4 linked regions of the Homo sapiens genome follow. The protein of the gene in region 4 interacts with the protein of the main gene of each other region in a biochemical or structural test. Each region holds a gene or a part of one and is shown on either strand. Other genes may lie near its edges. The genes, in order: DCAF1, PAFAH1B1, NDEL1 and KATNA1.

Region 1 (7,027 bases), on a different chromosome or scaffold from region 4:
GGCTGTAGGCACCATGGTCCGACTTCTGCCGCAACACTCTGATTTTCCTGCCATTGCAGGGTGATGGCCTCTCTCTGATAAAACTGATTCTACCAATCAAAGGGGAGTTGCCTGCATAAGATGGGCCGGGCAGAGCTAGCGGACCCTGGGGGGGCCGTGGCTGAGGATGAGCAGTAGGGGCAGAAGGCGCAGAGGCACCCACAGCAGCATGGCTGCCCAGACGAGTTGCAATGCCATTAGCGATACGAGGGGTTCGGGGTAGAGAGACAGGAGAAGCAGCAGCAGTGACTGGGGTAAAGGCAGAAGAATGGGAGGCAGCAGTCATGGGCAGGTCAGCCTCTTTTGTCAGCACGGTTGCTGTTTCTCCAAGCCCTTTAGAAATAAGATGGTTTCGTATCAACAAAAGCAGCTCTTTCTCAGGGAAGGAGATCCTTGACTGGGCAACAACATCTGCTTTCTGCAGTCGTGCTAGGGAAACATCAGTGCCAATGAGAAGTGGTTTTCCTGACACCCGTTCAATGAGTTCAGCAGCATACTTGCAGAACTTGACATGGTCACTGCGCTTGTCCTGCAGCACAGGCTCCTTCATCAGCTGCTGGATCTGGCAGCTGCTGAAAAGGGGCAGTTTACTGATGATCTGCCGGACAGTGCTACTGCGAGACAGGCCCACTAGGGCTTTGCAGGCCAGGGCCCGGATTTGGTCTGCATCTGTGATGGGCATCTTAATGGACAGTAAGGACAGGAGCACCTTGATGCCGTTGTTGGACTGAACCACATTCCACATCTTGGCCAGGGTGTGCTCACTGCTTTTAGGGTTCTGAGGCAGCTTTCTCCGAGGAGTACCAGAGATAAATTTACCAATACTGGATATTCGGTTATCTGGGCCACACACACAATTGATGATAATCTGAAGTGCTGACTTCTGAATTTCAGCATCATGGATGAAGAACTCACCCTCAGCCACTCCCAAAATAATGCTGATACCTAATGGGAAAAAAAATTATGTATTATTCACCATAAAACTAATGGCCAACTTCAATAGTTGTTCCAGAGTCAAAATTTGGTGTTCTACTCACTTTTACTTTAAAAAACTATATTACTTTTGTAAAAACTGCAAGGGTTTGTATAAAGTGCAGACAGTTCTACTACAATGTATTTTTATGGTATCTCATATGCAGTTATTAAATAGGGAAATCATGTCATAATTATGGAAAAGTAATCAAGGTTCATGTGCAATTTTTTCTGGTTTTATTATTTTTTTGAGGCAGAGTCTCGCTCTGTCGCCCAAGCTGGAGTGCAGTGGCGTGATCTTGGCTCACTGCAACCTCCGCCTCCCGAGTTCAAGTGATTCTCCTGCCTCATCCCTGCAAAGAGCTGGGATTACAGGCGCCTGTCACCACGCCCAGCTAATTTTTGTATTTTTAGTAGAGGTGGGGTTTCACCATGTTGGCCAGTCTGGTCTGGAACTCCTGACCTCAGGTGATCCACCCGCCTCGGCCTCCCAAAGTTTTGGGATTACAGGTGTGAGCCACTGTGCTCGACCTTTTCTGGTTTATTAATTTTAATACACTAAAACCTTAGGAACGGAGAAAGCCCTCGGTTGGGCTGCTACTGTGGAAGCAGAACCCTTTCCACTCTATTTTAAGAAAATTAAAAACCAAGTGCCTGTGTCTTAGTCCTATCCTGCATCTTGTCCCATCACACGACTTCCCATGCTCACCCCAGCAGTGCCCTGATCAGCCTTGCTCTTAATAAAGTATATTATCAAAGTATATTTTCCTTTTTTTATATATGTATGACGGTTTCTACCCATTTTGAGCTACCTGCCAATTACTGACTCAGGTTACAAAACTGCTTACTTTGTTGTTTTTTTTTCCCTTTAACTCCTGGAAAGCTGTGATGCTTAAGTTTTTTACTATCTGCCTCAACCCATTTTTCCCATGAACTTTATTTTTAGTGCAAGACTCTTCAGAGTGTGAGCTTTTCAGGAAAGCTATAATATACCATTATAGCAGAAATGCCAGTACCACTCAGAAAACCTGAGTTTACTAGCATGACTCCCTTACATCAAACTATCTGGTCCTACATTTGTATTTTTGTTTTTTGGTTTTTTTTTTTAAATTAGTTCCTGATCTGCTGAATGGTACTCCTTATAAAGGACAGACAAGGAGCCCCCCTCTACTACTTCTGTTCTAAAATCCAAAATTAGGTCAGGTAAGTAACCAAGACCAGAGTGGCAAAGAAAAAACAAATCCAGACCAAGAAACAACAAAAATGGCAAAGTACAACCTACCTACAGTAGAGACTGTAGATCCAGCCTCATCCAACACGTCCACTGATTCTGCCAACTGGAGCTGGATTTTTGGCACCACAGTAAGAATAGCCAGGACATCCAAAGCAAAGCGCACAGTGTCATTCCTGGACAGGAAGAATTAGTCAAAGGGAAATTAGAGTATAGCCACAAGAATCAAGAGAGACAGAGAGAGAGACACACAGACAGATAGACACATACACACAGAGACAATAAATCAGAAGCACTACCAGTGTGGCTCTATCTCAAGCTGTCGCATCAAGAGAGGATTTTATAGTCACCATGACATTACTTCCAAAAAATATAGCAATGGAATTTTTACCTATTAAACTTCTATGATAAAAAACATAGAATAATCCTGAATCCTTTCATCCTAGTGAAAACATATAGAGACACGTACTCTCAAAGTTTTGGTGAGAGTAGAAATTAGTACACTCTTTCCAGAAAGTAATCTGGAGGCCAGGCACGGTGGCTCAAGCCTATAATCCCAACACTTTAGGAGGCCAAGGTGGGAGGATCACTTGAACCCAGGAGTTTGAGACCAGAATGGGCAACATGGTTTTATCTTTTTCTATAAAAAAAAAATATAAGATATTAGCCGGGTGTGGTAGCACGTGCCTGTAGTCCCAGCTTCTCAGGAGGCTGAGGTGGGAGGATCACCTATGCCCAGGAAGTTGAGGCTGTGGTGAGCCGTGATTACACCACTGCACTCCAGTCTGGGCAACAGAGTGAGAGCCTGTCTCGAAAAACAAAAAAAAAGAAAAATGAAAAAAAAGAAGAAAAAGAAAGTAATCTGGAAATATGAAACAAGATTCTTAAAATGTTCATAAACCTTGTCCTAGAAATTTCACCTCTGACAATCTGTCCTAAAGAAATAATCAGGCCAGGGCCAGGCGTGGTCTCATGCCTGTAATCCTAGTGCTTTGGGAGGCTGAGGCGGGCAGATTGCCTGAGCTCAGGAGTTCAAGACTAGCCTGGGCAACATGGCCAAACCCTGTCACTACTAAAATAAAAATTAAAAAAATAAATTACCCAGGCTTAGTGGCGGGCGCCTGTAGTCCCAGCTACTCGGGAGGTTGAGGCAGGAGAATTGCTTGAACCCAGGAGGCGGAAGTTGCAGTGAGCTGAGATTGAGCCACCGCACTCCAGCTCGGGCCACAGAGAGAGACTCTGTCTCCACAAAAAAAAAAAAAGAAAAGAAAAAAGACTCAGGCCGGGTGCAGTGGCTCACGCCGGTAATCACAACAATTTGGGAGGCTGAGGCAGGCGGATGACCTGAGGTCAGGAATTCAAGACCAGCCTGGCCAACATGTTGAAACCCCATCTCTATTAAAAAATACAAAAACCAGCCAGGCATGGTGGTGGGCATCTGTAATCCCAGCTACTCAGGAGGCTGAGGCAGGAAGAACTGCTTGAATCTGGGAGGCAGAGGCTACAGTGAGCCAAGATCACACCACTGCACTCGAGCTTGGTCAACACAGTGAGACTCCGTTTCAAAAAAAAAAAAAAAAAGAAAGAAAGAAATAATCAGAAGAATTTATGTATTAAGATGTTCATTAGCCACATTAAAATAGCAAAAGAATGAGAAAACCCACATAGACAAGAGCACCATATGTGTTAGAGTATAGTACACTCATAAACTACAGCCATTGACAATCATTTTCAAAGAACCCTAAAGAATGAGGGAAAGGGTTCAAAATACAACATTAATGATATAAAAATAAAAAATGTAAGATATAAAATTAAAAATCTGACAATACCAAGTACTGGCAAGAAAGTAGAGAAATGTTGGATGTCTTTTGTAGTTAAAAAAGAAAAAACCGGCTGGGTGTGGTGGGAGACCAGGGCAGGTGGATCACGAGGTCAGGAGTTCAAGACCAGCCTGGCCAATATGGTGAAACCCTGTCTCTACTAAAAATACAAAAATTAGCTGGGCATGGTAGTGGGCGCCTGTAGTCCCAGTTACTCAGGAGGCTGAAGCAGGAGAATCGCTTGAACCCAGGAGGCGGAGGTTGCCATAAGCCGAGATTGCACCACTACTGCACTCCAGCCTGGGTGACAGAGCAAGACTCTGCCTCAAAAAAAAAAAAGAAAAAAAAAAGTAGAGAAATGAAAGCTCCTATATATTGCTGGTGGGGGATGACAATGGTATGAACATTTTTAGAAGCAATTTGGCAATATCCAATAAAGGTAAGAACACAGACACCCTACAAACCAGATGCTCTACATCATATCCTCAAGAGAGCCTCCAAAAGGAGGTTCATGATACCATTTATTTAATAGCCAAAAAAACCAAACAAAAACACTAAATTAGCCATCAATGGCAGAATAAACTGCAGTATAGAAATACAGCATTTTAAATAAATATCAACATATATAAATCTCAAGAATATAAGGGTAAAAAAAGCAAGCTGTGAAAGATGAACTTAGGAAAATATTTATAATTTAAAAACATGCAAAGCAGTATGACGTTATTATTTATGAACACACAGATATATATAGTATAAAAACATGAGTGGGGAGAATATGGTTCAAATTCAGAAGATGGGTGACTCTGGGGAGGCAGAAAAAGAACTGAGCCAAAAGCAAATACAACAACATGCCAATCCTGGTTAATGATGGAGCAGTTGTTAAACTATTCTCTGTGCCTTTCTATGTTTTGAAAATATTCATAAAAAAGATGAATTTGATTAAAAGTATAATATTAATTATGTGTATTTGCAAATATTACGTAGTGAATGCTAAGAGTAATTTTCTTTTCTCTTTAAAAGATTCTGCATATTCTAAAGCAGAAACATTTATTAATTTTATTTCTAAAAATAAATTTTTAAAATCAAGGACATATTTTTTCAATAATCCAAATACAGGCCGGACCGTGTTTCATGCCTATAATCCCAGCACATTGAGAGGCTGAGGCAGGCAGATCACTCAAGGCCAGGAGTTCGAGACCAGCCTGGCCAACATGGCAAAACCCCGTCTCTACTAAAAAATGCAAAAAGTAGCTGGGCTTGGTGGTGCGTGTCTGTAATCCCAGCTACTTCAGAGACTGAGGCACAAGAATCACTTGAACCTGGGAGGTGGAGGTTGGAGTGAGCCAAGATCCTGCCACTGCACTCCAGCCTGGGCAACAGAGCAAGACTCTGTCTCCAAAACCAACAAAAAAATAAATAAACACAGATGTACCAGTTTAAAAAATGTATTTATACCCTTTCTAGTTATCTTGTAAGCTGTCATCTTTTTTTTTTTTTTTTTTTTGGAGACAGAGTCTTGCTCTGTTGCCCCGGCTAAAGTGCAGTGGCACCATCTTGGCTCACTGCATTCTCTACCTCCTGGGCTCAAGCAATCCTCCCACCTCAGCGTCCCTAGTAGCTGGGACTACAGACATGCGGCAACACACCAGGCTAATTTTTTTTATTTTTGGTAGAGATGGGGTTTCACCATATTGCCCAGGCTGGTCTCGAACTCCTGATCTCAAGCAATCTGCCCGTCTCAGCCTCCCTAAGTGCTGGGATTACAGGTATGAACCACCACGCCTGGCCTATCATCACTTTTTAAACAATTCTCCAAATAAATATAATAACCTACTTTTCCAATATTCTAAAACAGCACTTCTCAAAGTATAGTCTGGAGACCTCTAGAAGTCTGAGACCCTTTCAGAAGGTCCTGTGAAGTCAAAGCTATTTTCGTAATAATAAGATGTCACTTTCCTTTTGCACTCTCATTCTCTCATTGCATAGTAAGAGAGTCTTCCAGAGATGATGTGATGTCACAAAAACTGAATACAGAAGCAGATATGAGATATTAGGCCAGACATTTTTTCAAACTTGCTAAAATTATCTGGTTTTATTTTGGAAATTTTTCATGAATAACGCAAACATGCAATGGGTTCACTTTTTTTTTTTTGAGATGAAGACTTGCTCTGTCGCCTAGGCTGGAGTACAGTGGCGTGATCTCAGCTCCCTGCAACCTCTGCCTCCTGGGTTCAATTGATTCTCCTGCCTCAGCCTCCCAGGTAGCTGGGACTACAGGTGCGTAACACCACCCCCGGCTAATTTTTCTATTTTTAGTAGAGATGGGGTTTCACCACATTGCCCAGGCTGGTCTCAAACTTCGGACCTCAAGTGATCTGCCCACCTCGTCCTTCCAAAGTGCTGAAATTACAAGCATGAGCCACTGTGCCTGGCCCACATTTTTAATGCATAAATATTTTTACATTTTCTGTTTTAATTTCTAATACTGATAGATATAACACAAAAACAAAAGCCTTTTAGAGTTCTCAGTAATTATTAATATGGTAAAGGTATCTTGAAACCAAAAAGTTTAATAACACCTGCTCCAAGAGTACCTTACAATATTTAAATGCTGGGATTTAACAAACTTACTATATTCCCCTAAATAAGCCCCTCTCTTATCTTTATGGCAGTGAGTGAATAGGAAAAGAAGGTCAAGCACTCTGTTTATAAACTTTTTTACTATCTTCTCTTAAGACCCCATCTTTTTCAAAACAGTTTTATTTCTTTTTATATCATCTTCAAATAGAACCTACCCAGTTTCCTGATTACATCAGCCACCCTTTTCTGGGCCTTGTCCTGCTCTGCCTTAAACTAATTTGTGAAAATCCTAACAGTATGTCGAATTCCAAGAGTAAAAGGACAATTTTATATGAACGTAATATAAACATTATATATGGTTGTCAAGTAGTAGCAAGACACTTTA
Region 2 (7,027 bases), on a different chromosome or scaffold from region 4:
AGGTTGAGGAAGATTTTGTTTGAGAAACAAACTAATAGGGGAGAAAAATTACCCATCAGAGTGGTAAGTAACCTCTTCACAAATTGTGGTTTCCAAAACCAATGTTGTGCAGTGGAGAAAGTAATGTTTTTATTATAAGGCTAACGATGGAAAGAGTTAACGGGAAAGGAGAATTTAAAACAAATGGTAGGAATCCACAAGATTTTCATGTCTTCTCTATTCTGCCCTGAAAGCACAGTCATTTCTTACCTGGCAAAGTCCACACGATTATGTAAAACACAGTTTGTCTGGCACTCCAAAATCTAATGTTCAGAGACCTCGCGAGGCGTACATACCCAAGGAGGTAACAAAGTGTTCATGCGCATTGAGGGTCTTCATGCATCGCTTGTTCTTGTAATCCCATACGCGTAGGGTCTTGTCATCAGCACAACTCAAAATAAACTTCCCCCCAGAATGGAACAGAACTCCACGTACCCAGTTATCATGACCCACCTTAAAAACAAAAAAGTTATTTGACTCAGTAAAAGGCAAAATGTTTAAATAGCATCTATTTCATAATACGATAAAACTATACATACCAAAAACATCAAAAGACCAGAAGAAAATAAAAGTCTAGGGGATTCTAGATTAAAGGAAACTGAAAACTCATAAGACATGAGGAGTGAATATAACGTACGATCCCTGACTGGGTCCTGGATGAGGGTTAAAAAGAAGTCCCGCAGGGCATTATGGAAATAACAAGAACAAATCTCAATATGTAGTCTATCAATGGTAAATTTCTTGAGTGTGAATAATTTTATTTTGGTTATTTATATACTATCCTTGTTCTTAGGTGGTTCATGCTAAAATACTTGGGGGTAAAGTGTTACGATGTCTGCAAAGAACGCTCAAATGATTTCAGCAAAATATACACACATACATGAAGGAAAACCAACAAATGGTAACTAAGTGAAGGATATACAGGCATTCACTATATATCTATATATCCATCCATCCATCCATCCATCCATCCATCCATCCATCCAATCATCCAATCATCCATCCATCCACCCACCCACCCATCTATCTATCCATCCAATCATCCATCTAATCATCCATCTAATCATCCATCCATCCATCCATCCATCCAATCATCCATCCATCCATCCATCCAATCATCCATCCATCCATCCATCCAATCATCCATCCATCCATCCAATCATCCATCTATCCATCCAACCATCCAATCATCCATCTATCCATCCATCCAATCATCCATCCATCCATCCATCCAATCATTCATCCATCTAATCATCCATCCATTTAATCATCCATCCATCTATCCATCCATATTTCCCCTGTCGCAGCAGTTCTGTTCTTGCAATTTATCTTTAAGGACATGCCCAGAGATTTAGTTAGCAAAGATGTTCACAAAGCATTGTCTGTAGATCAGTGTAGAAGAGCATCTAACAACATAAGCAAGGATCACATACTTTCTAAATTAAAGGTTTGCTACAAAGCTACCTTAAGGGGCATGATACCATTTTTATAAAAAATAGCACATTCATCTACACATTAAAGAAAAAGGCTTAGAACTGCACAGTTGAACATGGTAGCTACTGTCCATGTACGCCTACTTTAATATATAATATTAAGATTACATACAACCAACAATTCAGTTCTTCAGTCTCACTAGCCACATTTCAAGAGTATAATAGCTGCATGTGGCTAGTAGCTACCACGCTGGATAGTGCAGTTATAGCACAGCACTGCAAAATTTTGTTTTGTTTTAAAAAGAGACAGCAACTCTGTTGCCCAGGCTGGAGTATAGTGGCATGATCACGGCTCACTAAAGCCTCAAATTCCTGGGTTCAAGTAATCCTCCTGCCTTAGCCTCCCAAGTAGCTAGGACTATAGGCATGCATCATCATGCATGACTAATTTTTAAACTTTTATTTTGGTAGAGACAGGGTCTTGTTATGTTGCTCAGGCTGGTCTCAAACTCCTGGGCTCCTCCTGCCTTGGCCTCCCAAAGTCCTGGGATTACAGGTGTGAGCCACTGTGCCTGGCCAAGAGTATGTTTTTCTTGTTTCTTTTCTTTTTTTTTCCTGGAGACAGAGTCTTACTTCACTGCCCAGGATGGAGGGCAATGGTGCGATCTCGGCTCACTGCAACCTCCGTCTCCCAGGTGCAAACGATTCTCAAGCCTCAGCCTCCCGAGTAGCTGGGATTACAGACGTGCGCCACCATGCCCGGGTTTTTTTTTTTTTTTTTTTGAGATGGTTTCACTCTTGTTGCCCAGGCTGGAGTACAATGGCGTGATCTTGGCTCACTGCAACCTCCGCCTCCCAGGTTAAAGTGATTTGCCTGCCTCAGCCTTCCCAAGTAGCTGGGATTACAGGCATGTGCCACCATGCCTGGCTAATTTTGTGTTTTTAGCAGCGATGGGGTTCCTCCATGTTGGTCAGGCTGGTCTCGAACTCCCAACCTCAGGTGATCCACCCATCTCGGCCTCCCAAAGTGCTGGGATTACAGGCGTGAGCCACCGCGCCTGGCCACGCCCGGCTAATTTTTGTAATTTTAGTAGAGACGGGGTTTCACCATGTTGGCCAGGCTGGTCCTGAACTCCTGACCTCAGGTGATCCACCTGCCTCAGCCTCCAAAAGTGCTGGGATTGCAGGAGTGAGCCACTGCGCCTGGCCTGCTTTATTTTAATTATATATCATCTTTTCTTAACAGCAACATGGTATAGCTGAACTCCGCTCAGAATACTACTAGAGGAGAGTTTCATTTTCTTTTTATTTATTTATTTATTTATTTTTTGAGGCGGAGTCTCGCTCTGTCGCCCAGGCTGGAGTACAGTGGTGCCATCTCCGGTCACTGCAAGCTCCGCCTCCCGGGTTCACGCCATTCTCCTGCCTCAGCCTCCCAAGTAGCTGGGACTACAGGCACCCGCCAGGATGCCCGGCTAATTTTTTGTATTTTTAGTAGAGACGGGGTTTCACCATGTTAGCCAGGATGGTCTCAATCTCCTGACCTCGTGATCTGCTCGCCTCGGCCTCCCAAAGTGCGGGGATTACAGGCGTGAGCCACCGTGCCCGGCCGAGAGTTTCATTTTCTAATCAGTTCTTGAAGATGCTTCCACATATGTCTGTCATATCCTACAGAGAGACAATCACTTCAAGGTATCATTAGCACCTAAAAAATCTCTAAACAAATGTGGATGCCAAATTATAAAAACTACTACTAAACAAACATCCACAGATCTCCTTGGAACTCCTTTAGGCACATAGGAATGTCCACAATCCCTTACTAGTATTGACATATCTTTCTATGGAAATACAGATGCTCCTAAATAAGCCAAATAAACTAGATCATGTGAGCAAGGAGGTATAACAGTTAAAAGGATTCATATAAATAAAGTGAAACAGAGAAACAAACATCTTCAACAGTGAACAGGTCTCTAAGAATGCTGCTTTTTCTCCGTAAGAGATATTACACATTTGTTTTATTTTATTTTTTTTGAGATGGAGTCTCACTCTGTCGCCCAGGCTGGAGTGCAGTGGCACAATCTCGGCTCACTGCAAGCTCCACCTCCCGGGTTCACGCCATTCTCCTGCCTCAGCCTCCCGAGTAGCTGGGACTACAGGCGCCCGCCACCACGCCCAGCTAATTTTTTGTATTTTTTGGTAGAGACGGGATTTCCCCAAGTTAGCTCGATCTCCTGACCTCGTGATCCACCCGCCTCGGCCTCCCAAAGTGCTGGGATTACAGGCGTAAGCCACCGCGCCCGGCCGAGATATTACACAATTTTTAAAGATACAGTGAGCTAGCAGCATCTCCCCCTCAAACACCGACTGGCTCTACAGATTCTTTATAGAATCTGCATTCTAGAGAAATAACTTTCACATCACTATAACAACAACAAAAGCTAAAGGAAAACTATCTTTATAAAGAAGTTATTTTAAAGCCCAGAATAATTCAGATTATTTAAGATATCATAAAGCATTAATCCAAAAAGGTATAAACAGTGAAGATGCAAAAGAAATGGTAAGATTATGCAAACTTACGAGGGTCATAAGGCACATGCCAGTACTGACATCCCACATCTTAATAGTCTTGTCTCTGGATCCAGACAGCAAGAATGGCCCAGGTTTACCACTTTTTTTAGTCTACAGAAAACATAATAAAAATTAAGTTTCCCACACAAGAAGTTAGGTATGGACTTTAAATGGCTTCTATCTAATAATGATATATATTTCCAATTTTTTTGTTGCATTTTGGTTTTTTGTTTGTTTTCAGACGGAGTCTGGCTCTGTCACCCAGGCTGGAGTACCGTGGTGCAATCTTGGGTCACTGCAACCTCCGCCTCCCGGGTTCAAGCGAATCTCCTGCCTCAGCCTCCCAAGTAGATGTGATTACAGGCACGCACCACCACATGTGGCTAATTTTTGTATTTTTAGTAGAGATGGGGTTTTGCCATGTTGGGCAGGCTGGTCTTGAACTCCTAACCTCAGATGATCGATCGGCCCACCTCGGCCTCCCAAAGTGCTGGAATTACAGGCGTGAGCCACTGCGCCCAGCCCAATTTGTTTTTATCTGTTGAAATACACAAGTCTTTCACACCATACCTATGCTACACAGGAAGGACTCAGATAATGTAAGAACAGAAGTCTCTATTTAGGTTAGGACTCAGTTTTCATAAAACCAACAGATAATAAATTTACTTTTCAAGATTTCTGTAATCACTATTTAATTTAACTTTTACAAATCCAACCAAAACCAAATTTACTTATTTATTTTTTTGATCTGGATTAGGGAATATTTATTTATTTCAAGACAGGGTCTCATTCTGTCACCCAGGCTGGAGTGCAGTGGAACAATCATAGCTCACTGCAGCTTTGAACTCCTGGGATCAAGCAATCTTCCTGTCTCAGTCTCCCTAGTGGCTGGGACTACAGGAGTGTACCACCACACCTAGCTAAGTTTTTGAAAATTTTTTCCGTCATTAGTATAGTGGTGAGTTTAAAAAAAAAAAAAAAGTTTTCTGTAGAGACGGGGTCTCGCTATGTTGCTCAAACTCCTGGGCTCAAGTGATCCTCCTGCCTTGACTTCCCAAAGTGCTGGGATTACAGGCGTGAGCCACCACACCAGAATCAAATTTATGACATACAGCATGTAACCACCACCAGAGGGCAGTAAACAGAATCTCAAAATGCAATGGGCCAATCAAAATAAAGAGAACTCACAAGAGAAGATTCATTTAGAAAAATAAGTGGGATGGGGGTAGAGGGAGAGGAAACTGCCTCCTTTGTTTATTGACATGTAGTTTTAAAAATACATGATAGGAATGCCTCTGTCAAAATCAATGTGAAGCCAGGCACAGTGGCTCACACCTGTAATCCCAGAACTTTGGGAAGCTGAGGTGGTCGGATCACTTGAGGCCATGAGTTTGAGAGCAGCCTGGCCAACATGGCAAAACCTTGTTTCTACTAAAAATATAAAAATTAGCTGGCAGGGTGGTACATGCATCCGTGGTCCCAGCTACTCAGGAGGCTGAGGCAGGAGAATCGCCTGAACCTGGGAGGCGGAGGTTGCAGTGAGCCGAGATCACGCTACTGTACTCCAGCCTGGGCAACAGAGTGAGACTGTCTCAAAAACAAACAAAAGTTTTAGACCATTCATTTTCATTCATTTATTAGAAACAGGGATCTTGCTATGTTGTCCCAGGCTGAACTTTAACTTCTGGACACAAGTGATCCTCTTGCCTCAGCCTCCTGAGTAGCTAGGACTATAGCCATGTGCCGCTGTACCTTGTAATTTTTAACATATTAATAATAAAGACCAAAACCATAAAGATCACAAAGAAATGCGTTAAAACTCCAGGCTCAGCTAGTACTTTTAAATGATCAAGAACATCAGAGGCTGCCATATGGATTAGTCTTCATTTAAAAAAACATTTATACTATCACATCTGGAATTAATTTTAAAAAATAAATACTGAACTGCATTTTACCATAAATTTATAAATAAAATCATTATCTTCATTAATGAAGGCTATTTTTCTGACAGAAAACTTTAACCTCTCCCTCAGGTTTTGTTTTACATTGAGATGATCTCATAACACTGATTTTTCTGATAAATTTTAATTCTTTAGGAGAATACCCATCACGTATCAAATCAAGGATAGGCTGACAGCAATAATCATCACTGGTTAAATAATGTAAACACATCAGCAAGCTGTGAAGAGTAGAGAATTTCAAGATTCAGAATTGCTGGATGCAGATTTTTAAATGCATTAACAGCCCTGAAACAGGGAATTAGCAAAGTTATCTAAGGACTTCAGATATCAGCAATAAAACCATGAAGACATTTGTATATACAGTACCTCAGATCCTGTTGCTTCAGAGATGGAGGAATATGAGCTTTCTGGAGCCCAGGAAATGCATTCTACCACATGCTCATGCTCTCGGAGCTCAGCCTTGCATTCCTTTGTTGCTACGACCCATACACGCACAGTCTGGTCATTGGAACAGCTGGCTATCAGAGTGCCATCTTGATTTGGCCGTACCATACGTACCCATTCTCTGTGTCCTGTGAATGTCTTCACACAGTAGCTGTCAATATAAATAATAACTTACACTGTGAATGACAATCATCAGGACACTTCCCAGAAGTGATATAAAAATATGTACTGGGATGAAGAGAATGGTACCAAGTTAGAGATGCAAGTCGACAGAATAAATGTACAATCCTGGTTAATTAAAGTAGGAACAATAAGCTAACAGACATATCATTAAGGAGCTAATAAAATCAACATCTAGAAGATAAAATATGTATAAGAAATAAAATCTTTCAAAACTAAATGCACACTTAAAAGTATTTCCAGCCATATTGGAAAAAAGCTATGCTCTACTAATCTGAGTAAAACTAGTAACTTTGTACTACAAAAATCAAGTGTAATTCTATGCACAACCAAATTCAGCCTAACAGAGGTATACCAGCACAAAGATTATTTACTTTTTGTTTTTTTTTTTTGAGACGGAGT
Region 3 (7,027 bases), on a different chromosome or scaffold from region 4:
GGTTAGTTCAGCCATAATCAATCAACTTTCTAATAAAAAGGGGGAATACTTATGCTCCCTTTCTAATGACCTCAGAATATTTTGTTTCCTCCTCTTAGCGTTACTGAAGGAAATACATATAATCTTCCCCTTACAACTAAAAAAAGTGTGGTACAGGAGGTGGAACAGCAGATCCCAGGTCTCTTGACCCTATCCATTGCTCGTTTCTAAGCTGTAGACTGTTAGTTGGTGTTGGGGGGCAGGGTGTGTTTTGGGAGCAAGCACTATTAAAAAACCCAAAAATATCACTTGAGAATTTTTTTTACGGCAGCCAATTCTTTCTCTAGGTTCTTCATTTTTTCTACTGCATGAGAATGGATGAGAACATTTACAACACTTTACATGAAATTAAAAGCTATTTTATTTCTGACAGCACTCTGTAAAATGTTTAACTGATACCCTTTGTCTGTAATTAAATAATTCACCCGCAAATGACACTGGCCTTTTAGCATTTACCTCTAAATTGGGCACCCTTGTTTTGCACCTGTCACCACAACACCTGGCAAGCACAGGGCTCTACCAACGCAGATGACATGGAGAGATCAGGCGTTTCTCATGTATTTCCACACACTCACACTTCACCAGCTGTCTCTTTCCCATAAACACTTTGCCCAAATCAAACCCCTCCTTCTCCGAAAAGAAAAATACTATCCATGGCAAAATATATATATACACAATTCATGTCTATTATCCATGACAGTAAAGGACTGGGAATGCACAGCTAAATTAAATCCACAGGTAACATATACTTCACTTTGAGAATCCATTTGGACCTCCTCCCCCCACATTTCAATAACAGCTATTCAGAAACAGCAACAATGGTTGGGTGCAGTGGCTCATTCCTGTAATCCCAGCACTTTAGGAGGCCAAGGCAGGTGGATCACTTGAGGCCATGAGTTCGAGACCAGCCTGGCCAAGATGGTAAAACCCTGTCTCTACTAAAGAAAAAATAAAAAAATTAGCTGGGTGTGGTGGCATGCACCTGTAATCCCAGCTACGCAGGAGGCTAAGGCACAAGAATCACTGGAACCCAGGAAGCAGAGATTGCTGTGAGCCTTGATAGCACCACTGCACTACAGCCTGGGCGACAGAGTGAGACTCTGTCTCAAAAAAAAGAAACAGCAACAAAAACAGACAAACTTTTTTCTTCTCCTTCTTTCCTATGACAAAAGTACAATGACCTACTAAAATGACAACAGAAAAAAGGAAGAGAGGTAATGACCTTGTAAAACAAACTCTGAATAAGCATAATTCAGCAATAATTCAGCAGCTTATTAAAGCTACACACACACACACACACACAGTAGAAATTGAGAGCCATTCAATTCCTATATTCAAGACACGCATTCATTCAAATCCATATTGAGTATCTATCACACGGCAGGCACAACTTATGTCTGAGACATCAGTGAGACATCCAAGCACGAGCACCAGGTCTTTTGAGGGGGGAAAGGGTGGTCTAGAGATTAAGATTTGAAAGACATCCACACCCAGGGGTGGATGAAACTATGGCTGTGATTAAGATCAGAAAATCAAGGACAGAACTCTGAGTAAAACCAATATCGAAAGGGTGAGCAGATGAAGACCCAACAAGATGACTAAGAGGAATGGAAAGAAAGTTGGGAGCAGCCATGAAACAGCATCAGAGAAGGAGAGAAAAGAGGGCATTAAAAAAAAAAAACGGTCAGTGTTGAATGCTTCAAGTAAAATTAGGACAGAACGGCATCCACAGGATTTGACAGCACTGAGATCACCAGTGAGCAGTTTTAGCGGCATAAGCAGGGGACAGAGCCCAGGCTAAAGTGTCTGGGGCGTGTGCATGCAGTCAAAATGCTAACAATAAATGGGGACACGCTTTCAAGAAGCTTTAAAGTATGTAATATGTACCACATAAGTATTACATATATTTATATGGATAACATGTAATACAGAAATATCAAAGTATACCTGTATAACACATAACATATAATGTGTAATACATAAACATTATACATAAATATTAACGCATATATAGTAAAAGGCTGAAATACAGGAGAAATAAAGATTTAAGGGTTGGAAGAAATGAGATCCAAAGCACAGATGGACAAAATTAGCCACGGACAGGAATTTGCACTTTTACCACTGGGACAAAAAGGAGGAATGGCTACAAATAGAGGTAATAATAGGAGAGTAATAACAAAAGATGAGAAAAGAAATCAAAGAAGCTTAAAACAAATGGCCTTGATTTTCTCTGTGAAGGCATGCAAGAGTGGAGAAGGGCTTCCAGTTCAAGTCAGTGGACAAAGTCGTGTAAAGAGGCATAAATGAAATATTCATAAAAGCCAACAAGGGCTGGTGGACACCAGCAGACCCAAAGTGTTGATGACTTTTGGAGGTCGTTATTTTGATAACTCTTAGAAGACGGATTGTCAGCTGAATGTGTAAACCATACAAGGATGCCAAATTAAACTTTCATGCACCACTTCTGAATAAATTAAAGTACTAAAGCAAAACAAACAAGGAACAAAGACAGACAACAACGTGGGGTGAGGAACAGGCAGAACTAACCCAAGAGTAAAATGGAGAGAAATTCGAGGGCGACAACAATGCAGCAGCCCTCGAAGCCCATCAGGGCATCCCACAAAGAGTGTGAAGAAGAAGCTAGAAGATCCGAGAGCAAAGAAAGGTGTAGGTTTCTTCTACTCAAAAGAAAGAAGGGGAAACAGAAATGCTAGGAAAAGAAAGCAGCGTACAGTCAGCTACAATACGAAATATTTAAAAACCCAGTATGATTTTGAGTAAATTACAGTTAAAGAACAAAATTCTCAAAACACATTTGTTGAATGGCACAAATATAAAGACCCATCTGAAAGTCCAGCATCTCCTCTGTGATTACACAGTAAATAACACATATATGTGCATTGTTACAAATGCTGTTTGACTACTTTTCCATTTTTAGAACCAACCAACAGAGAGCTCACACAGCTAGTAGAGGGCTCAGAAAAGGAAAGCGGAGTGGGAGTGTGGTGGGGAAGAAAGGGAGAGAACAGCGAGTTAAGATATAGTCTAATACTGGCCAGACATGGTGGCTCATGCCTGTAATCCCAGCACTTTGGCAGGCCAAGGCAGGCAGATCACCTGAAGTCAGGCGTTCAAGACCAGCATGGCCAACATGGTGAAACCCCGTCTCTACTAAAAATACAAAAATTAGCCAGGTGTGGTGGCATGTGCCTGTAATCCCAGCTACTCAGGAGGCTGATGCAGGAGAATCGCTTGAACCTGGGAGGCAGAGGTTGCAGTGAGCTGAGATCGTGCCGCTGCACTCCAGCCTTGGCAACAAAGCGAGACTCCGTTCTCAAAAAAAAAAAAAAAAAAAAAAAGATATAACCTAATACATTCAGAAACAAAAGTTCAAGAATGTTAAAGTAATTTTTTTAAAAGAACAAAAAATAAAAATAAAAATATCTTTGCTTAAAGTTGAGTAAATCAAGATAAACAGAAAAATAAGCACATGATTTCAAGTTATAAAGACAAATACTCCAACATAGAGGATTTTAAAATGGTTATCTTGGGAGTGAAGAAAGATTACTCTATGTACTGTAGGAACGACCTGTGCACTTTACTTTGTATTTTAACCTTAAAAATGCAGGTTTAATCTGATGGTTAGAAAATAACCCCTATGATGAGCTGAAACAGGCAAACATAGGACCTGTGTCTTGGCCTCCCATATCTGCTTTAGATAAAGTATAATGCAATTTCTACATTTTTTAGAAAGTGTCACACACGAAAATAAGTGAAGGGGGTAGTAGATAGTGGGAAATGGCAATGGTTGATTACTGAAAGGAGAGGTAAAACTCACTAAGGGAAATAGTAATGGGAGCTAATGCTAGAAATGCTGACTTGATAGTGGCATAAATCCACATGGTTCTGCAACTGTTTCCAGTAATTCAGACTGCAGATCTCCTTTGTGGCCAGAGAGACCATGAAGTCAACAGTGACAGAGTAAGAGATGTGTGAGATCACAGATGAATAGAAAGGAAGTGAAAGCAAGAGATGGCTGATAAAAACAAACACACTAAAAAATGGGGTAATACTCTTGATGAGGTTAAAGAGTAGGTATGGTACACAGTAACACACTGATTAAGCAGAAAAACGGGTTTAATTTTTTTTTTTTTTTTTTTTTTGAGATGGAGTCTTGCTGTCTGTTGCCCAGGCTGGAGTGCAGTGGCTCGATCTCGGCTCACTGCAACCTCCGCCTCCTGGGTTCAAGTGATTCTCTTGCCTCAGCCTCCCAAGTAGCTGGGATTACAGGCATCTGCCACCATGCCGACTAATTTTTGTATTTTTAGTAGAGACAGGGTTTCACCATGTTGGCCAGGCTGGTCTTGAACTCCTGACCTCAGGTGATCCACCCGCCTCAGCCTCCCAAAGTGCTGGGATTACAGGCGTGAGCCACCGCGTCCGGCTGGGTTTAATATTTCAGAAGCGAAACTGTTCTGGAATACAAGGCTCACACCAAGGAGAAGGCACTGAAGTTGAGGTGGCCAAGGAAATAAGGTGGGCAAGACTAAAAGTAGAGAGTAATGCCATGAGCCAAATGTTAAAGTCCCACAAACACAAAACAAAGGAATGACCAGGAAGACGGTAGACAGCAGCAAAGACCAGGATGAGGGTGGTAGAAGACACACAGCAGGCCTTAGACAAAGTATTCTAGACAAGGACAGAGGCATCGTGCTGTTGAAACAGGAGTGGGGAACAGGAAGAATGCCCCGGTGGGAACCTCAGAGTTCAAGGTACAGGCTCTTCTGCAGGGGCATCATGAAGTGTCATCTGGACTTGGCTAGTCAATGGATGCTTTTGCTTCTGAGCTTCATGACAGCCTTTACCACAGGAAAGTATCCTTTCTTTCTTCCCTCACTTCAAATTAAGAAATAATTCAATACCTTGTCAGTGGAAACACCTAGTGATAAATAATTGAAACTTACCCCTACTTTCCGTAAGAGATCCCCCACGATGTTTAGTGCTGATATCCTAGCAGAGGGAGTTAGTGGACTGGTACCAAAACCATTTGGTATAGCTAGAGAAAAATAAAAGCTGAGTGATTACACTTGCAGTTCCCTTTACATTTGGGTTTTGTTGTTGATGTTACAAAGTAGTGTAACACTCAATACAATATCAACAAACTACTTCAAACTATGGATAAAGTATAGATACCATAAATAGGCTAAACCACTGTCCAATTGGTGGATATTTACATTATATCAAATTTTTCGCCATTATAAGTAATGCTACAAGGACATATACTCTTAAACATCTAGACAAGTATTTCTGGAAAAGAGATTCCTAAAAATAGAACTGCTGGGTCAGAACATATGCCCATTTTTTTCACCTTAACAGACACTGCCAAAATGCTCTCTAAAAAGCCTGTGCTAATATCAGCAATCTATGCGGTGGTGCCCTTGATAATATTAGATATTATCTTTTTTTTTTTTGACAATTTGATAGTCACGTTTTTTAGTTTCTATTTCCATAGTAACTAGTCATTTGAATCTCTTCTGAAAATCAGCTGTTTAGTCTTTGTACATTTCTCTACTGGTTTGTCTTTCCTGTAATCAATTTGTAAGAACTCTATACATTCTGGATGTTCACCCTTTCTCTTATAGATGTTCTATCTCTCAGCGTGACATTCATCTTGTAAACACTGTGTTTCGGTAGGAGAACCTTTGGCTTTTCCATCTTAATGTCATAATGTTTCCCATACTTTCTCCTAGTATTTTTCTGATTTTTTTACATTTAGATCATTTAATTCACCTAGAAATTATAGTTGTCTATAAGATACATATCTAAATTTTTTCCTCCAAATGGAGAGCCAATTGTCCTAGTATCATTTAGGGAAAACTCATCTCATCTGAAATAGCACTATAACTATAAACTAAATTCCCTAAATATATGAATATATTTCAGTTCCATTGAACTATTAGCCTATTCTATCAGAAGTATGCTACTTTATTATAATGTTAAAATATATTTTGAGATCTCAAAAGGCAAAGATCCCTCTTGTTATTAGCCCATTTCAAATTTTTCTCAGCTGTTCTTGCACATTTACTATTCCAAAATAATTTTAATATCAACATATCAATTTTTTAAATCCTATTAGGATTTTTATTAGAAGTTGAAATTACAGATTGACTTGGGGAGAATGGATATTGTAAGAAAATTAAGTCTTCCCATTCAGAATCATAGTATTTACCATGATATTTACCCATATCTTCTTCCACACTCAGTAAGGTTTTCAGTCGTGCACATTTCTTAATTTTTAAGAGATAATATGACATCATGATTAACGGCTCTTGAGCTGAACTACTGTATTCAAATCCAGTTCAGCCACTGGGTAAGTGACCCATATGTAAGAGGGGGCAAATAACAACTACCTCATCATAAAGATGTTGTGAAGTTTAAATTAATGTACTTTAAAAATGCACGTAGTAAGTACTCAATAAAGGTTAGCTATTATTTTTTATGTTTGTTTTCCACAGAGTGCTAATCAGCAACGAAAATACTTGTGTGGCTTTTTTGTTGTTTATTATCCTTCTTCTCCTCAAGAATATAATCTCATTGAAGGTAGGGGCTTTGTCTTACCACTGTGCTCCCAGCATCCAGAATAACACATGACACATAACAGGCGCTCAACGTGATATAAAAAACCGCTGTACTGTTCTTGGCAGGGATTTCTAGATCTCATTTTTCCCTATTCAAGTTTTACATTTTAGGTGTTATTAAATCTGTGCTTTTATGGTAAGTTGCTTTAAATGCTTTTTAGAAACAAACATTGTAGGCTGGGCATGGTGGCTCATGCCTGTACTCTCAGCACTTTGGGAGGCTGAGGTGGGTGGATCACCTGAGGTCAGGAGTTTGAGACTGGCCTGACCAACATGGTGAAACCCCATTTCTACTAAAAATACAAAATTAGCTGGGTGTGGTGGCACACACCTGTAATCCCAGCTACTTG
Region 4 (7,027 bases):
ACCACCATGCCCGGCTAATTTTTAAAATTTTTTTCATGGATATGAGGTCTTGCAATGTTACCCAGGCCAGTCAAACTCCTGGGCTCAAGTGATCTCCCACTTGGCCTCCCAAAGTGCTGAGATTACAGGCGTGAGCCACCACCAAGATATTGATCTGTCTTAATTCAGCATAAAAACTTCACGTCAGAGGATCACTTGAGCCCAGGAGTTTCAGGCTGCAGTAAGCTGTGACTGCGCCTCTACTCTCCAGTCTAGGCAACAGAGCGAGACTGTGTCTCAAAAAACAAAACCAAAAAACTTCATACTAGAAGTTTATGCTTACAAAAACCTATGCTTCCATGATAATTCATACCTGCACACGTTGGTAATGTCCGCACCTGAATAACCTTCCATGTTTTCTGCTATACTTGCAAGGTCAACATCATCAGCCAATTCCAACTCACGTAGACTTATTCGTAATAGCTCCTCCCTGCCTTTTGCTAATGGTAGAAACAAATTTTAAAATGTAAGCCTGCAGCATAAACATAGTATACTATTGTCTCAAATCTTCTTTGTGTGAGATGTTGTCTTCCAGTAAGAATTGGATCTCTAAGAAGAGATAATTAAGTAAAGAGCCATTCTTTACTTTTTAATTCCTTACTATTTAGTATTAAGGCATATAGCCAAACTAGTACTGTAAAGGAAGATACTCCTCATGTATCTCTTCCAGAAAGTTAGTTAATAACAAATTTTAAATTCTCTAAACAAAACTACATGAAAGTTAACAGGCTTTCTGACAAGATTGAAAGGAAGATACCTGACGGCAAAGGAATATAGATTCGTTTCTCAAGGCGTCGTCTTAAAGCCTCATCTATATCCCAGGGAAAATTAGTAGCTGCCAGAACCATAACCATTTTGGAAGGGTCATCATTTTCAGAAGTACCTCCAACACCTAAAATAAGGGTAAGGGGAGAGTGAAAAAGATATTAAGTTGGATTATACCAAATGAAGCTCAGCTATTTAAAGATCAACAACTATTTAGTACAACAATACAAGGAAGCACAGTCTTAATGCCTCCTTAAGACTTAGGTTAACTGGTACCTATGTGAATTTGTAATCCAAAGAAAATGAGTTCTGTAGTATGCAAATATATGACTCAAAATAGATTTAATCGAAAAGCCAGATCTCAAATACATAACAATTTTAAATCTTTTTCAAAGCGTACATAAACTCTAAGGCCAATTTATCTGCATTTATTTTTATTTCAATTTCATAGCTAAAGTAAGATAGTTGTATATACCAAAAGGGTGCCCTGTGTGTGGCCATTAATTCTGACTTGTCACCACTGTCAGTGTACCAAATCTATTACTATCACTATCAGGAACTTCTTGCCACCCCCTCTAGTCCATCTGAAGTTAAGAATACCTATTAAAAGCTTGGGTTAGCACTATGAGTAAAGTTTGACCCACTGGAACTGGAGACACCACACCTAACAACCTCCCGTCCCTGTTCAACTCAAGCTAAACACAGATACCATCCATCTGAACCAGCAGCTCCGCTTTCACCCTTCTGCTTGCTTCATGTTCTTCAGAAGTCCCTCGGCGACTACAGATGGAGTCTATCTCATCAATAAATATGGTGGCTGGAGAATAAAATCGAGCCTAAAGGAAGAAACCATGCAATATCAAGCTATTAAGCTATTATTTCATTTTAAAATAATCTACAGATTAGCAATCAGAAAATAGCTGAGGGAGGCTGGGCACAGTGGCTCACACCTGTAATCCCAACACTGGGAGGGTGAGGCAGGAGGATGGATTGAGCCCAAGAGTTCGAGACCAGCCTGGGCAACATAGCAAGACTCCATCTCTACAGAAAATTAAAATATTAGTTGAGTGTGGTTACACGTGTCTGAGTCCCAGCTACTCAGGAGGCTAGGTGAGAGGATCCCTTGAGCCCAGGAGTTCAAGGCTGCAGTGAGCTATGATCACACCACACCACTGTATTCCAGACTGGGTGACAGAGTGAGAACCTGTCTCTAAAACAAGAGGAAAGAAAGAAAACAACAAAACAGCTAAGGAGCCTGCCACACTGTGCATCTTTCTCTCACGCTAATACTGGGGAGATGGGATAGAATTAGAACAGCTAAAATATGGCTTCTAATGAACCGTTTTTTATTTATTTATTTTTTTTTAAGAGGCAAGGTCTTGCTCTGTCATCCAGGCTGGAGTGCAGTGATATGATTTTGGCTCACTTCAACCTTGAGCTCCTGGGCTCAAGCAATCCTCTCACCTCAACCTCCCGAGTAGCTAGGACTACAGGTGTGTGCCACCACACCAGGCTTATTTTTATATTTTTGGTAGAGATGGTGTCTTATTATGTTGCCTAGGCTGGTCTCAAACTCCTAGACTCAAGCAATCTTCCTGCCTCGGCCTCCCAAAATGCTAGGATTACAATGAGCCACTGTACCTAGTGGGATAATTTCATCTTTAAAGAGAGTCAATACTTGGGTCTTTATGTATAAATATTTTTGTACTTTTTCAACAAATGGAGAGAGGGAAAGAGTGAACTTCATCATCATTAAAACATCCAAGAAAATTCTCAACTAAAATTTTAGGAAGCATCTATCAAAAGCACCTACATCAACAAAAATTAAACTTCAGTCTGTTGCCACACCAAGCAAAAGTGACTAGACTGATTCTTCCCACATACTGAGGTTATGTAGAATGATCTGACTTCAAGGAAAGGCTATGTGTCCTGGGTTTAGCTGGCCCAGGAAGGTACGGTAGAGGACACCAATTGGTTCTCCCTGCACAGCACACTTCTGGTAAGAGAAGCCTCTTTTTCATTTGCAAATCATCCCTTTCTTTCTTTCCTCCCCTCTCCCCTCTCCCCTCTCCCTCTCTCTGTAACCTCTGCCACCCCGGTTCAAGCAATTCTCCTGCCTCAGCCTCCCAAGTAGCTGGGATTACAGGTGCACGCCACCACACCTGGCTAATTTTTGTATTTTTAGTAGAGACGGGGTTTCATCATGTTGGCCAGGCTGGTCTCGAACTCCTGACCTCAAGTGATCTGCCCGCCTCAACCTCCCAAAGTGCGGGGATTACAGGCATGAGCCACCATGCCGGGCCCCTCTCATTCCTATTCCACTACTTCAAAAGAGGCTAACTTTACTTGGAACTCCAGGGGTTTTATTCAGACCTGGCCAATCAGAGCACTCCAATTCTCTGACCAAAAACAAGGAGTTTCGGCATAGGTATGAAACTCAAAACAGGCCAAATATTAATCTTTGGACTTTTGCTGGAACTATGACAAAATGAGGGCTAACTTTGCTGAGAGTTCATTACCCTAAGGACAATAAAAATAAGGCTTGAAAGCTGAGTGCAGTGGTACACGACTGAAGTCCCAGCTACTTGGGATGCTGAGAGAGGAGGATGCAGTATGCTATGATTGTGCCTGTGAATAACCACTGCACTACAACCTGTGCAATATAGTGAGAGCTTATCTTAAAAAAAAAAAAAAAAAAAAAAAAAAGCTGAACACAATGGCTCTTGCCTGTAATCCCGGCACTTTATGGGGTCTAGGCAAGAGGAGTGTTAGGCCAGGAGTTCTAGACTGCCTGGGCAACGTAGTGAGACTTCATCTCTACAAAAAAATCAAAAAAGGCCAGGCGCAGTGGCTCATACCTATAATCCTAACACTTTGGGAGGCCAAGGTGGGCAGATCACCTGAGGTCAGGAGTTCAAGACCAGCCTGGTCAACATGGCAAAACCTCATCTCTACTAAAAATACAAAAATTAGCCAGGCATGGTAGTGCACTTGTGTAGTCCCAGCTACTCAGGAGGCTAAGGTGGGAGGATCGCTTGAGGCTAGGAGGTGAAGGCTGCTGTGAGCCGAGATTGCAACACTGCACTCCAGCCTAGGTGACAGAATGAGACCCTGTCAAAAAAAATAGAATTCATGTCTTGACCAGGATTGGTGACCCATGCCTATAAATCTAGCACTTTGGGAGTCTGAAGCAAGAGGATCACTTGAACCCAGGAGTTCAAGATCAGCCTGGGCAACACAGCAAGACCCCATCTGTAAAAAAAAAAAAAAAAAAAAAATGAGCTGAGTGTGGTGGCTCATGTCCATCATCCCAGCTGCTTGGGAGGCTTAGATGGGAAGAGCACTTGGGCCTGGGAGGTCACGGATGCAGCGAGTTGTGATCATGCTCCTGCATACCAGCCTAGGCAAGACTGAGAACCCATTTCAAAAAAAAGAAGATTCACGTCTTTGTCACTAATAGCATAACTCTATCCTAATTACATAAAACTACTCTGTTTCTTAGAGGCAAGAGTGACGTAATCAGTGAAGCTTAACAAAGTCTGAAGTTTAAAAGGCTGTGGAATTCAATCTAAACACTCTACCAGAACTTGTTGAATTACATTTCTTCTATTGGTACTCTGATTTGTATTGGTGGAAGAAAGAACCTAATCCAAAGATTAGGTCATTAAAATGAAGGCATTTGGTGCAGTTAATAGATCGGAGGTGACCTAAGTTCCACAATAAATTATGATTCTCACCTTTTGGCATCATTGTTACAATACTGTGGTTATCATATTATAACTAAACCTATTGATTTAAAAAACATAATTTCAGATTCCTACAGAAGATTAGTAATGCAGATCCCATAATGTGAGCATGCCCCAAAACTGGTAGATTTGGATCTACATCTGGAGAAAAAGAGACAAAGAGAAACTCTAATTATTCATGTTTGTAAAGAAATCTAGCTTTAAGGGCATAGGACTCATACTCTGGGCAAAATGGCATCCTGCCTAACTATTCCATATACTGGAGATAGTTACAGCTCACTTTCTCCCCTTTTAGAGAGGTAAAGAATCATTAGAGCTGTCTCAAACATTCACCATTTCAAACAGAAGACGAACAAGCTTCTCAGATTCTCCTCTGTATTTGGAAGTCAAAGTTGATGAAGAGACATTGAAGAATGTTGTCTTGCATTCTGTAGCTACTGCTTTAGCAAGGAGCGTCTTCCCCGTGCCAGGTGGGCCGACCATCAGTACTCCCTGTTGCGAATATAATAGCCTCAGCAGAGGATTTATCTGCCATTGTTCTAATTCATAAAAGTGTCATTACTAAGTAGCAAATTTCGACCAACTTATATATAATATCAAGACAAATAAAAGACAAACAGATAAACAGGAGGATACTTTGTCACAAATTTACTCTTCCCGTTAAAAAAGAAGATAACCACATTATGAAAAATTTGGAACTCAAAGATGAGAAAAAGTAGTTTATAATATCAGCACCCTAACAGAGGTACCATTAGCATCTGGATTTATATCCTGATTGTCCTTTTGCTCAGACAAATTAGGTTGTTTAAAAATATAACTTATTCGGCCAGCCATGGTGGCTCACACCTGTAATCCCAGCACTTTGAGAGGCCGAGGCAGGCAGATCACGAGGTCAGGAGATTGGGACCATCCTGGCCAACATGGTGAAGCCCCGTTTCTACTAAAATACAAAAAAAGTTAGCTGGGCGTGGTGGTACATGCCTGTAATCCCAGCTACTCGGGAGGCTGAGGCAGCGGAATCAATTCAACCCGTTAGGCGGAGATTGCAGTGAGGCAAGATCGCACTGCACTCCAGCCTGGCGACAGAGCGAGACTCCATCTCAAAACAAAACAAACAAAATACATATATATATATAATTTATTCAAAGTATATCTATCATTTTGTATCTTGCTTATCACTTAATGTATAAAGGATTTTTACAACTATTCATACATGCAGAGTTACCTATCAGTGTGTTTTCCAAATCCAAGAAAAGCTTTTTTGATGGTCTTTTTTTAGATCAGCCCATGACTTTAAAAAGTATTTATCACATGCAGATATTTCTCATTAATTTATTGAGAACAATCCCCAAAATACAGGTTACAATCATGCAACATGACATATAAAATGGAGTGTTTTTGCATTAGCTGACTAGGTCATATTTGCAAATATGAGCTCATTCTAAATGGGGTGAATTCTAATTTTTTTTTTTTTTTTTGAGACAGAGTTTCGCTCTTGTTGCCCAGGCTGGAGTGCAATGGCGTGATCTCAGCTCACCACAACCTCCACCTCCCAGGTTCAGGCAATTCTCCTGCCTCAGCCTCCCGGATAGCTGGGATTACAGGCACGCACAACCACGCCCGGCTAGTTTTGTATTTTTAGTAGAGACGGGGTTTCTCCATGTTGGTCAGGCTGGTCTCGAACTCCTGACCTCAGGTGATCCGCCCGCCTCGGCCTCCTAAAGTGCTGGGATTACAGGCGTGAGCCACCACGCCCGGCCAAATTCTAAATTTTAATGCTGTGTATTCAACTTTCCAAAGATCACATTGTATGTATTTCTTATTCTAGGAATCATGCAACAGCTTCTGGTCTAACAAAATTCTCAGTAGCACAACATATACCTTTTAATTTAAACATTTCCTGACTCCACTTTCTCCCTCCACTTTTCCCAATATAGATAAATATTGGCTCTCTGTATCAACATGCTGCCATTTACTTTGACAATGCCATCACAGTAATAAACTTACTTTCCATGGTCTCCTAATGCCCTTAAAGAATTCGGGCATCCACATTGGTAACACTACGGCTTCCTTAAGCAACTTTTTAGCTTCTACTAAATCAGCGATATCATCCCTGAAAGAGAAGACATTTTATTAACAACCCTTTAGATGATACATGTCTATGCAGTCACTCTTGAGAACCACTGGAAGCACATGATGTTGCACTGCTGACAGAATGGTGAGCCTCTCTCTGAGCCCGGGTGAACTAATGCACTGTGATGAGGCCCACCATGTCAACCAGCAGATATATAAAGAGCACAACCTTTTCTTCAGTTATTGGCGGTTGACAGTTTTTAGCCTGGATCACGAGAACATAGTCTACAGGCACACTCTTCAGGGTTATGTGTCAACTCATTTTAAACTCCTGCTCTTATGGTCCTCATTCCATAATCTCCATGATTTAGAAACAATGAGCCCATGTATTTTAAAACTAAAAA

The links.
Region 1: the proteins of KATNA1 (region 4) and DCAF1 form a complex in vitro, tested with the Homo sapiens proteins (one study listed by BioGRID).
Region 2: the proteins of KATNA1 (region 4) and PAFAH1B1 form a complex in vitro, tested with the Homo sapiens proteins (one study listed by BioGRID).
Region 3: the proteins of KATNA1 (region 4) and NDEL1 form a complex in vitro, tested with the Homo sapiens proteins (one study listed by BioGRID).

The regions. Positions count from the first base shown.
Region 1 is NC_000003.12:51,420,014-51,427,040, forward strand, and holds part of DCAF1 (DDB1- and CUL4-associated factor 1), read right to left. Parts: intron 5,996-7,027; exon of another isoform or gene 5,897-5,995; intron 2,419-5,896; coding exon 2,294-2,418; intron 985-2,293; coding exon 1-984. UniProt on the Homo sapiens protein: Acts both as a substrate recognition component of E3 ubiquitin-protein ligase complexes and as an atypical serine/threonine-protein kinase, playing key roles in various processes such as cell cycle, telomerase regulation and histone modification.
Region 2 is NC_000017.11:2,673,629-2,680,655, reverse strand, and holds part of PAFAH1B1 (platelet-activating factor acetylhydrolase IB subunit beta), read right to left. Parts: intron 6,597-7,027; coding exon 6,368-6,596; intron 4,152-6,367; coding exon 4,050-4,151; intron 493-4,049; coding exon 336-492; intron 1-335. UniProt on the Homo sapiens protein: Regulatory subunit (beta subunit) of the cytosolic type I platelet-activating factor (PAF) acetylhydrolase (PAF-AH (I)), an enzyme that catalyzes the hydrolyze of the acetyl group at the sn-2 position of PAF and its analogs and participates in PAF inactivation.
Region 3 is NC_000017.11:8,452,864-8,459,890, reverse strand, and holds part of NDEL1 (nuclear distribution protein nudE-like 1), read right to left. Parts: intron 5,096-7,027; coding exon 5,004-5,095; intron 1-5,003. UniProt on the Homo sapiens protein: Required for organization of the cellular microtubule array and microtubule anchoring at the centrosome. May regulate microtubule organization at least in part by targeting the microtubule severing protein KATNA1 to the centrosome.
Region 4 is NC_000006.12:149,596,711-149,603,737, forward strand, and holds part of KATNA1 (katanin p60 ATPase-containing subunit A1), read right to left. Parts: intron 6,664-7,027; coding exon 6,558-6,663; intron 5,043-6,557; coding exon 4,884-5,042; intron 1,641-4,883; coding exon 1,514-1,640; intron 932-1,513; coding exon 797-931; intron 480-796; coding exon 353-479; intron 1-352. UniProt on the Homo sapiens protein: Catalytic subunit of a complex which severs microtubules in an ATP-dependent manner. Microtubule severing may promote rapid reorganization of cellular microtubule arrays and the release of microtubules from the centrosome following nucleation.